3 linked regions of the Homo sapiens genome follow. The protein of the gene in region 1 purifies or fractionates together with the protein of each later gene. This does not show direct contact. Each region holds a gene or a part of one and is shown in the gene's direction. Other genes may lie near its edges.

What was found. Proteins that work in one complex are often made in the same cells at the same time.
Region 2: the proteins of ISG20 (region 1) and EPB41L1 purify together in Homo sapiens (affinity purification with mass spectrometry; one large-scale study listed by BioGRID and IntAct). This does not show direct contact.
Region 3: the proteins of ISG20 (region 1) and CSNK1G3 purify together in Homo sapiens (affinity purification with mass spectrometry; 2 studies listed by BioGRID and IntAct, with this or other methods). This does not show direct contact.

Annotation. Positions count from the first base shown.
Region 1 is NC_000015.10:88,647,980-88,653,607, forward strand, and holds part of ISG20 (interferon-stimulated gene 20 kDa protein), read left to right. Parts: intron 1-2,255; exon of another isoform or gene 2,256-3,935; coding exon of another isoform or gene 3,936-4,130; coding exon 4,131-4,331; intron 4,332-5,628.
Region 2 is NC_000020.11:36,230,520-36,233,299, forward strand, and holds the end of EPB41L1 (band 4.1-like protein 1), read left to right. Parts: 3' UTR 1-2,280; downstream 2,281-2,780. UniProt on the Homo sapiens protein: May function to confer stability and plasticity to neuronal membrane via multiple interactions, including the spectrin-actin-based cytoskeleton, integral membrane channels and membrane-associated guanylate kinases.
Region 3 is NC_000005.10:123,515,177-123,518,676, forward strand, and holds part of CSNK1G3 (casein kinase I isoform gamma-3), read left to right. Parts: intron 1-3,500. UniProt on the Homo sapiens protein: Serine/threonine-protein kinase. Casein kinases are operationally defined by their preferential utilization of acidic proteins such as caseins as substrates. It can phosphorylate a large number of proteins. Participates in Wnt signaling.

The DNA of each region.
Region 1 (5,628 bases):
TCAATATCCAGATTTGCCCCAGGGTAAGTGGCCTTGTGGGAACCAGGCACTAGCCGGGGGGCGGGGACACCAGGGGAGCTTGGCAGGGGACAAGAGCAAAGAATGGGGCTGGAGCCACTCCAGAAGGTGATAGTAAGGGACCTGTCCTCTGTAAGAACAAGATTCTTCAGGGCCCCTTACTCATAGCCTCCTCTCCTGGCAGCCAAGAATGAATGAATGGGTACGTGAACTAGTGTATAATGGATGAATGAATGCATGGTAGAGGCAGCAGGCTCTGGACTGCTCAGCGGGATTCAGTGCAGAGATGTGCAGACTTGTTAGATGGGAAGAATCCCCTGAAACAGTTGCTGACACCCCTCCCTGGATATTTCAATTCAGTAGGTCTGTGTAGGGCCTGGCCCTCCTGGATTTTTGGATCAGGCACATCTGGGAAATACTTGGAGTAGAGTGGAAACACAGTGGAAGGTGTGTGCAGGCAGACAGCCGCACCTGGTCTGGCACTCCCCTGCTTGTGACCTGGGTGCACACCGCCCTGCGCCCCGCTTTGCTGGCGGGTCAGATGGTATGGAAGTCACCGCCTTGCACCGTTATCATTGTGTGCCTGGTAGTGCCCTGTCCCTTGGTCCTTGTGCTAATAATAACAACTACAGTAACAATGATGGGGTCAGGTGGATCCAGACACGGCACTGCAGCTTTCAGCTGACTAGCTGTGTGACTTGGGCAAGCCCCTTAATCTCTCTGATCTCGGGCTCCCTCCTCTGTAAAATGGAATTAAGAATAACCTCATTGAGGAGCTTCCTGAGGAGGTAAGGAAAGTGCCTGGCACAGTGCCAGGCTGCTAAGAGATCAATAAATGTCCCATCCCCCAGCCCCACCCCAGTTCTTTCCAGGAATTTGAGAGACTCCTCCCCCTGTGTTTGAAAGTGGCAAAGTCTGGCACACTTGCCTCATGACACTGACTCAGGGCAGGTCCTGTGGCCAGCAGGTCACACAGCCCCGAGGCCAGCCTGCCAGTGCCTTTCTCCGACTCCTGGGCTCCAGCAGGTGCCCGACTCCTTCCCTTTTCAGACCTGCCTCAGTCTGTGGAGCCCTGGCTGCTAAAGGGCCACTCAAGCCTCACCAGTCTGGGCCCTCACCTTACAAATGGGAAAACTGAAGCCCAGAGAGGGTCTTTGACATCCCTGAGGTCACACAGCAAGTTCCAGCATCTCTTCCTTCCCAGAATCTTTGTCCCAAAGAGTGGTGTCTCTTTGCTAAATAGATGGTTCTGTTCTTTCCCTTCTTCCTCTTCTTTCCTCGGCTTGTCCTCTCCCTCTTATTCTATTTGTCTCGTGGTGAGTCACATAGTGCCTCATGTAGACCCCCACTTCCCCTCTCCAGACTCTCAGGCTCGGGAAGTGATGGGTTTCCTGGGAATCCACACCATGATGACTCGTACCTTCTACGTCTGTGCCCAGCTGTGGCTGCCTCTGGGATGGTGGATGAGTTCCTTCAGGGCTTTGTGTGAACTGGGCCTGAGCCAAGCCCCTAGATGGGGAAAACAGGCCACATTGTTCAGGAGCACAAAGGATGTTAGCAAGAAAAGACACATGACCCATGGCCGCCCACACACCCACATCTCTCCACGCCCCGTGCCATTTCTGCCCGCCGCTGCGTGCTGGGTGGTTTCCTCTGCACAGAGTTTCCCTTGAGCTGCTACTCTGAGGTCGTGTGCCTGTTGTCATCTTTTAAAGCCTCAGTTTTGTCGCCATTTCCCAGGTGACCTCTAGCACACTCAAGTTTGAGAAGCGCTGGTGTGGTTCAGGAGCAGCGCCCCTTCATTCTCCAGCACACTCTCCCCAGTCCTCTAAGTCGAGCGTGAGCTCTGTCCAGAGAAGGCCTCCAACCAGACCATGTGGACCGCGGGGCAGGCTGGTGACACTGCCTGTTGACAGTGGATGGACAGACTGCTTCCCGCATAGTGACCCTGGGCAAGTCACATCTCCTCTCTGAGCCTCAGTCTCCTGTGGTTGCCAGGGGAGAACATGTAAAAGGGAACACATGATGTTCCAGGAGGCCGCTGGCTATCTAGAAGGAGAAGCAGGCTACGGGGAAGGTGTTAGGCACCAGAAGGCTCTTTCCTGGTGTACAGGCTAAGGTCGTGGGCTACATGCAGAGAAGGAGACGAAGGCTGTCCTAGAGCTGTCCAAAGTGGGCCTGGACTAGCCACGAGCCGCCCCTTTCCCTAATAGAGCTCACATCTGTTCTATTTTCAGGTCCCCTTCCCATCCTCTCCAACGGCAGCTGAGTGAAAGCAAGCTGACTGGCCTGTGTGACCAGAGCAGGGCAGGCTGTCCATGTGGGAGGCGAGGCGAGGAACGCGGGGCTGGGGCAGTCACAGCTGGGCGCCTGGGCTGCTGGAGGCCTGGAGTGGTCGTTCACTCTTCTGGCTCAGTGTGGCAGTGGCAGGCGGGCTCTGGATTCATCCCACTGGCTTCAAGGCCTGGCTTTGCCACTAACTAGCCGTGTGACTGTCCCAGTTATCAAATGGTGCTTGGCAAATCACACCAAAACTTACCGGTTCAAACAATGTCAATACTTATTTCGCTCGGCCACCTGCAGTTTGGGCAGGTGCTCTGCAGCAGGACAGGCCGTCAGTTAAGGCACCTTGAAGGCTGGGGGCTGGAACCATTGGAAGGTTTGCTCACCCACCTGTCTGGTGGCTGGTGCTGGCCTGCCTTGGACACATCACTATCTCGGTGGCTTTTCCCCGTGGTCTTTCCAGCATGGTGGCTTTGGGGTGGCCAGACATTTATTTATTTATTTATTTATTGAGACGGAGTCGTGCTCAGTCGCCCAAGCTGTAGTGCAGTGGCACGATCTCAGCTCACTTGCAATCTCCCTCCCAGGCTCAAGCAATTCTCCTGCCTCAGCCTCCCGAGTAACTGGGAATAGCCACGGCGCATGGGTAATTTTTGCATTTTTAGTAGAGACAGAGTCTCACCATGTTGGCCAGGCTGGTCTCAAACTCCTGGCCTCAGGTGATCCACCTGCCTCACCTCCCAAAGTGCTGGGATTACAGACGTGAGACACCGTGCCTGGCTGGTGGCCGGACTTCTTATAGAATTGCGGTCCCAGAGAGAAGTCAGAAGTCATACAGGCCAGCCCATATGCAATGGGAGGGGAGTTTGATTCCATCTTTTTTAAGAAGAGTGTCAAGGAATTTGCAAACTTGTTTTAAAATCATCAGAGTAAGCCTGGGCATGTCACTCCTCTGCATTTCAGATATTTCCTTTGTAAAACTCAGTTAAATGCAGTGCTCCCTCCTCACTGTTAGTTTTCTGTGGCTGCCGTAAGGAAGCCATCAACTTAGTGATTCACAGCAACACAGATGTCTTCTCTTACAGTTCTGTAGTTTCGAAGTTCAGCGTGGGTCTCACTGGTCTAAAATCAAAGTGTCAGTGGGGCTAGGTTCCTTCTGGATGCTCTGGGGAAGAATCCATTTCCTCGCCCTTTCTGGCTTCTAGAGGCTGCCTGAATACCTTAACTCACGGCCCCTCCCTCCATCTTCAAAGCCAGCAACAGCCTGTTTTCCTCATGTGGATTCACTCTGACCTCCACATGTAAGGAGGCTTGTGATTATGTTGGGACCACATGGGTAGGCCAGGTGATCTCCCCATTTGAAGGTCGACTGATTAGCAATCTAAGTTCTGCCCGGAACTTTAATTCCTCTTTGCCAGGTAATGCATTCACAGATCCTGGGGACTAGGGTGTGGACATCTTTGGGAGGTCATTATTCTGCCTGCCATAATAGAATTGTTGGGAAGATTAAACAACATAATATACATGACGTATGTTGAGGCACGCTTGGCACCTGGGAAATACTCAGGATGTACTAACCATTGCTCCTACACAGTTCAGCTCCTGAAGGAGTCCAGGTGGGCTTTTGGCACAGAATGAAACTATCAGGTGTGAGGAGGGTCCTAGTGCAATCTCTTCTTTTCAAAGATGATACATTTGAAGCCCAGGGAGGACTGATAATTTGCCCAAGGTCACACAGCCAGTCAAGGAGGGATTGCTCCCTTGCCAGCCCCAGCCCCACCCAGAAGATGCTGGGTCATGTAGGGGTGGGCACATGTCTTCCTGGCCAGATCCTGCAGCTCCTGAAAGGCAAGCTGGTGGTGGGTCATGACCTGAAGCACGACTTCCAGGCACTGAAAGAGGACATGAGCGGCTACACAATCTACGACACGTCCACTGACAGGCTGTTGTGGCGTGAGGCCAAGCTGGACCACTGCAGGCGTGTCTCCCTGCGGGTGCTGAGTGAGCGCCTCCTACACAAGAGCATCCAGGTGAGAACCTCCTCGTCCTTCTCCTCCTCCCCCCTCCTCCCCCTCCTCCCCCTCCTCCTCACCCATCTCCATTTCCTCCCCCTCCTCCCCCTCCTCCTCCCCCTCCTCCTCCCCCTCCTCCTTCTCCTCCTCCTTCTCCTCCCTCCTCCCCCTCCTCCTCCCCCTCCTCCTCCCCCTCCTCCTTCCCCTCCTCCTTCCCCTCCTCCTTCCCCTCCTCCCCCTTCCCCTCCCCCTTTGCCCTCCTCCCCTTCCTCCTCCCCCTCCCCCTCCCCCACCTCCTCGCTCTTCTCCCCTTCTTCCCCTTCCTCCTCCCCTGTCCCCTCCCTTTCCTCCTCCTCCCTCATGCCCTCGCACACCTCAGGGCAGCTTGCCTGAGGCATTGATGGTAGGTCCTGCTGTGCCTGGTCCCTGGCTGGTAGAGTGAGGATGAGGGCAGGGAAGGGAAAACACCCAACAAAGGTTTGCTTTTGTTGTTGAAATCAAGCCAGTTACCCTGTGGGAAGTGAAGCTTGCTCCCACCATAGAACTCTGGGCAATGATGTAAAGCACACACCTCACCTCAGATATGTCTCACAGCAGGGGCCGGGGAACTGGGATATTTGTACACCAGTTCCCATCAGCCACCAGCTGCTGCTGCTCCTGGGCACTGATTCCGCAGCACTTCTGGCTGGTGGGCAAAGCAGGCAGGAAAAGGCATACGGATATGGGGGGTTGGGAGTTCACCCTGTGGGAAGGGCAGAGGGAGAGGCGCCAGACACTAAGAGCCAGGGCTGTACACAGGGACCCTTCAGGTCAACAGCTCTTTATTAAACACCTGCTGCCTGCTCTAGGCCAGATCCTAGAGACGCAGGGTGAGCAAGACCCGTCTCTGTCCCTGAGCTCTTGGTTGGTTGGGAGGTGGCCCTTAACCAGATCATCAGCACACATGGTAAGGAGTGTGTGACGGAGGGAAGGGCAGTGCCCTGGGAGCAGGATGAAGGATGGGGCTGGCAGGGCAGGAGACCAGATCTGAACAGAGCCTGGAGGGTCTTAGTCAAGGAGGGCAGAAGAAGGCATACAGAGTGGGGCCAGGTGAGTCAAAGCCTGAGGCTCGGGGAGGGGCTGGGGAGCACGGAGCCCGCCCCTAGCCTGCTGGCAAGAGCTGTAGGAATCATGTCCGGAGTAGGGAACAGGGCTGAGTCTGGGCCTGTTAGCCTCAAGGCACATAAGGCACATAAGGGCCAGGCTGGGCTTTTCCTGGAGCCCTTGCCGCTCTGTGGCTCTCAGTCTGGGGCCTTAAGCCTGACCCAGGGCCTTC
Region 2 (2,780 bases), on another chromosome or scaffold:
GGGGTGGGGGGCCCTAATGGAGAGGTGTGGGTTTGGCAAGAAAGAAGCAACACAGATGTCGTCCCCAAAATGCCAGTTCAAGACACCTTCTCCCTGCCCCCCTGGTAGTAACAGTCAGGGCCTGGTCTGTGCTCAGGTACTGGGTCCCAGTCTGGGACTCTGCTGCTGAAGTTGCCACAGTAGAGGTCCCTGGCTTAGTCCTTATCTCCCTACGGGGCTTGCCTTGGTTTTCAGTCTTCTCTCTCTTTCTCTCTTTTTTTTTTTTTTGCCACATTCTGCCCTTCCCTGACCCCATTGTAATAACCAACTCCATATCCAAAGGGAGGTGGTGCTCTCAGCCATTGTAGAAGATGGTGGCTTTAACCTGACTGTCTAAAAATTCCCAGCTAAGCCTTTTCCTCTACTCTCTTCCTTGTTCTGAATCATTTCTTCTTCTCAGGCCAAAGTAGCCATGGTAAGGAGGCTTCATGGGGCAGACCCTGAAAGATCAAAACTGCATTTGCAAAGCCCTCCCCTGTCCCAGGACAAAGCTGAGACTGACGGGTGATGTTGCTCATAGGCTCCAGCTCTGCATAAGACCTTGGCTTGGAGACCTCCCTCTCAGTCAACAGCTGAACTCTGAGCTTGTGCCCAGAAATTACCCCAAGACCACAGGAACCCTTCAAGAAGCTCCCATCACAAGCTTGGCATTGCTCTCTGCCACACGTGGGCTTCCTCAGGCTTGTCTGCCACAAGCTACTTCTCTGAGCTCAGAAAGTGCCCCTTGATGAGGGAAAATGTCCCACTGCACTGCGAATTTCTCAGTTCCATTTTACCTCCCAGTCCTCCTTCTAAACCAGTTAATAAATTCATTCCACAAGTATTTACTGATTACCTGCTTGTGCCAGGGACTATTCTCAGGCTGAAGAAGGTGGGAGGGGAGGGCGGAACCTGAGGAGCCACCTGAGCCAGCTTTATATTTCAACCATGGCTGGCCCATCTGAGAGCATCTCCCCACTCTCGCCAACCTATCGGGGCATAGCCCAGGGATGCCCCCAGGCGGCCCAGGTTAGATGCGTCCCTTTGGCTTGTCAGTGATGACATACACCTTAGCTGCTTAGCTGGTGCTGGCCTGAGGCAGGGCAGGAAATCAGAATAGCATTTGCTTCTCTGGGCAAATGGGAAGTTCAGCGGGGCAGCAGAATCAGTGGCATTCCCCCTGGTGCAGGCCGGTGGGTCCACTCCAACTCCCCCTGAGTGTAGCAGCACACTTTCCATACACCAGGTTCTTTCTACAATCCTGGTGGAAAAGCCACAGAACCTTCTTCCTGCCCTTCTTGAGAGTTCCCCCTCTTTCTGGGTCAAGAGCTGGAGTGGTGGCTCCATCCTCTCTGGGCCACTTCGGTCTAGGAACTCATCTTTGCAGGAACCAGGAGTCCTGAGCACACTGAACACACCTCAGAGGGAGGATCCTTGTTGTGGATTTTGCACCTGGCTTTGGGGCAGGGGTGAAGTGACCAGGCTTAGCTTGTGGAGTTTATGGGCCACCAGGGTTTGGGGAAATCACCATCCCGCGGATGCTGTGACCTCCCTTCTACGGAGATGCAGGCAGTGCCACGAGGGAGGAGGGGACCTGCAAAGCTAGAATCTAGGGCACTGTTTCCTCCCCATCCTTCTCTTTGTAGAGAATAGAGACGTTTGTCTTGTCTGTCTTCAACCTACTTTTCCTTTTCTCTTTTTTGTTTCTCATCCTCTCTGTGCCACCTCTCCACCCAGGAGGCCATGTAGCATAGTGGAAAAAGTCCCTGAGGGCGGTTAGGAGTTCTGGGTGACCATCCTGGCTCAGCTCCTAACTCACCATGTGACATCAGGCTATCCCCATTCCCCCTCTTGGGCCTCAGTTTCCCGACTTGCAAAATAAGCAGAAAGAACCAGATGCTCTCCAGGGTCTTTTTCTACTTTGCTATCTCATGGGTCTTCATTTTCTCTTATTTTGTTTTCTCTGGATCTTTTCCATCTGAGGGTACAGGAAGTACCAGGACCTGTTTCAGTTTTTGAATCCTGCAAGCACATTCCAAGACTGGCCTGAAACTGCATGAGCAACATCACTCGAAATAATTTTTTTTTTCAAAAGCACCTTAACAACCAATTGCGATGCTGTCCTGTTCCTTTTTACTCACACCCTTCTCTCCTTTCTCGTCCCCATGCTCCCCCACCTCAGTGCTCCGTGCTGTATGCGTGTGCTCTCTGTTCTTGTATACTCAATATAAGTGAAATAAATGTGTTTGATGCTGAACCATACTTCCTTGGCACCTCTCCTCTCTCTCTCTCTCTCTCTCTCTCTCTCTCTCTCTCTCACTGTCTCTCTCTGACTTTGGCCACTGGTACAAGTTGGCACTGTGGGAGGGGCTAAAACTGAAGTGGAGACATCCCAACTTAGAACATGTTTATGCAACAAATATTTGGAACTCAAGGTGGTCCAGGCCTTGGGTGACTCTCCAGGCACAACACAAACAAGACAAAAGTCCCTGCCCTTCATGAACCCACAGGCTAGTGGAGGAAACAGATGCCAACACAGGCAAACAGTCCGTTACAGAGCACTCAGCACTAGGAAGGAAATACACCGGGAGAAGGGAAGGAGGGTCACTGAAGGAGACCACTTTAAATACAGTGGCCAGGTAAGGCCTCCCTGAGGAGGCGATCTGTGAGCTGAATGAAAAGAAGGATCAATCAACAAAGGCGAGGAACTTTGGTGCACATTCTAGGAGAGGGAACAGTAAGCATACAGGCCCCAGGACGTG
Region 3 (3,500 bases), on another chromosome or scaffold:
TCTCCAGTTACTTCTCTGTGTCTCCTCTGATCCATCCTGTAATCCTCTCCATGCTGGGAGTAGACTTATTCTGGTATAGTTTATTGTTTCAGATGTTTTTCAGAATGGAACAAGCGGTTGTTTTGTTCCAAAGGGCTTCCCAAAAGGATGTGTCAAATTAAATAGAAGGAATGCTGAAGTATTGAATAACAAAATATAGGTCATTGAATAGTTATATTATTGTTAATAGTGAGATTTGCTGTGGATGAGATGAAATGTAAAGAATGTATATTTTCACAGAAAGTGGTTTTAATGAAGTAATTATAAAAGAATCTGTACGTGAGGAAAATTGATAGTAACAGAGGGATGATAAGATGAGAAATTTTCACAGTTCGGGATTAACGTGTGTGAGGTTTTTAAGTCATCTTAAATATTAGACGACCCTAAAATAATGTAACCCCACACTTAATCATTATCAAAGGAGTGCTTAGAAAAAAAAATCAGTTTATAAATGCAAGTAAAATCATGTTACAGGGAAAATTGTTTGAAGTTTTTTTTTCTTCTCCTAATTATTCCCCTCTTAGCTTCCCTAATTATTCCCCTCTTAGTATTCAAAAAGGACTTATAACTGAATTTGTGTTCCCTTCAACCTCCCAGTAACAACAATACCTCCTATAATTTATTAAGTGCCTACTTTGTATAGAGGCCATAAATGATACTATTACGACAACTCTGAGTTAGGTGGTGTAACCTCATTTTTGAGAGCAGGAAACAGTCTTCTAGAGTTTAAATAATGTGTTGAAGATATATCTTGGAAGTAGCAGAGTGCATATTTGAGTCAGTTTTTTTTTCTGACTTCAAAGTCTTAAGCCACCAATGATCTGTTTTTTCTTATCTTCCATCTTCATCCTTTTTTTGGTCTTTTCTCAAGCGGTTGGCAATTCGTGGTATTAATTGATAGTATGTGTCTGAGTGTTGGTTCTTTATGATGTAATTTCTTCAGAAGCGGTAGTTTTGAGGTATCTGTCTTTAATTGTGGGATCCTGTAGGTGCAGACAGTATGGTTCTGGTAATTTAAGGCACCTCAGAGCATCACCTTTTGCTGATCTGCAGGACAGAACTATGCTTGGATTCTTAATGTGTAGAAATCAAATGTGCTTTAATAATGTGAAATGATTTTCAAGGGCATCTGAACTGCTCAGGAAATATGGAATGGGAGATAAATGTAGAAATATATAACTTCTAGCGACATGGTGGAGGCTGCTGTTAGACATTTTTTCTTTTTTTTAAGCTCTCTCTGAAAGCTGAGATTTAGCAACTATAAATGTTTGGGCTTCCCTTCTATTATGAAACCTAAGGAAAGTATGTGTTTATTTGTTGTTAGACCATAGTGATTGGTTATACTCTCTCCTGCCACTTCGTGCTTATCATCTTAGTTATAAGAAATAACTCTTAACAATGAATTGAAGTGTTTATGTATTGGGGAGATAAGACACACTTTTTTGGTCGCTTTGTTTACCAATGATATATTACATAGTTGTAATTTATTGAAAATTTATGAGTAAGTTATGTCCACATGGCTAAATCATGTCCGCATTTTTCATAACTTTTCAATGGAATGAGAGATGGTCTCATGATACTCTTTTTCTTAAATACAAAGTTTAATGTTTTTTTTCTCTAGGTTAGTAATGTGAGGTTGAAGTTGTATTCAAATTTATTACATTTATTTAGATCACTTTGTGTTACCTGGAAGTACTTTCTTCAGTTGATAGCTACATTTGGAAAAAAAGGGAAGAGAGTTACCCTGTTATTCTGCCATTATATTCTTCATCAAAATGGAGGAAATTCATATGAAGTGCCAAGGACTATGTGATGCCTGCCACATAGTAGGCACTGTGTAAATCTTCTGTCCTTCATTTCAGAAGTTGCCGATAAGAATTTTAGAGGGTGGATTGGTGGGTAGACAAGCAAAGACTCTCGGGAACACCCTATTACAGGAAAATCTCTCATACCTGACCTCTGCTTAACCCACTCGTGAGATTAAATGATAGTCTTCATTCTCTCTGTAGAATTTGCTGACTGATGCTCATGCTACATTGAATGACAGTAGACTATTCTTTAGTTTTATCTTGAACTTTTATTCCCCCCAGTTACTGTAGACTTACCAAGAAACATTTGTGTTTGTACCCAACACACTGTTATGGCACTTGATGTTGTAATCACATAGTTTAATGAATTATTATTCAGTGAACTCTGAAGATAAAAAGGCGTTTGTATGAGAACCAATTGGCTACTTTGAAATCAAGTGAGTAGCCAAAATCAATTATGGTTGAAATAGATGAGGGTTAAATAATTTTAAATGATTAGGGAAAAAAAAACAAAAAACACCTAACGATCTAAAAAAATCTGCAATAATATTATTTTTCACGTTTGTAAAATGTCTTTCTGTGTTTAAGAAACAGAAACTGGAAATCACAGGTGTTGTTTTATGGGGGTAGTTTTTGCAAGAAAAAGGAAATAGAACTTTCTTCGATAGACCCACACTGGAAGAAAAGGCCATAGCTCTGTATTATAAGATTGTCTTGTGAATGGACATTTTTGTTTTAGTTGTAATAAAATGTATAGAGTTTGTAGATGTTGAGAAATGATTTCCTTTTTAGGCTAACTTCAGAACCATTTATTAATTGTAATATATTAAAGAAGTCTGCTTCTAAAACATCATCTTTCCTAGTTTACACTACTGCTTAGAGATTTATTTAATAACATCCTCTTTAAGAAAAAAAAAAAAAAAAAGGAAGATCCTGTTATTCCCAGAGGTTCATTCCTTAGAGTGAATTGTTTATCTAGTCAGGTGATCAATCTATGGTTCTCACATATTTCCCAGTATGGTCCCTAATCTGATTTCATAAGCTACCTTTCAACTTTTATGTACTGTCAGGGTTGAAGGGGTAAGCCTTCTTATAGTTCCAACATCTCCATCCAATTAGGAATGCTGGGGTAGAGGAGATTGTTCTTTGAAGGAGGAAATGTGACACCCTTGATATATACCAGGAGCACTTGAGCCTCCTATCTCACCTAGCTCAGTCCAAATGGAAAGGAGAACTTTCAGTTGAAGGAGCAGGAAGTCCAGGTTGGAGAAGGAGTGGTATATGTGGTATGCTATTTATTTTGGTGTAACCACATTGCTTGCTGAATTACAGTAGATGCTGAAATGGCACATTGAAGTATGAAGGTAGGGTGGGTGGCTCCAAGCTAGTACTTGAGAGCTCTGGTCTGCCCCTCTGTGATTTTCTTGGCTGTTTGTCTTCTGTGTGTTGGAGTCATCCTAAGGCCAGCAGCAAGATCACATCTAGACATGCACTGGCCAGAGGATGGAATGGATCTCTCTCTCTCTTTCTGTCTGTGTCTCTGGAAAAGCAAATACATCTTTTGCATAAGCCTACCAACATATTTTTCTCTTCGTATCTTATTGACCAGAATTAGGTCACATGAACGTCCTAACTAGTTATCATAAGGGAAGT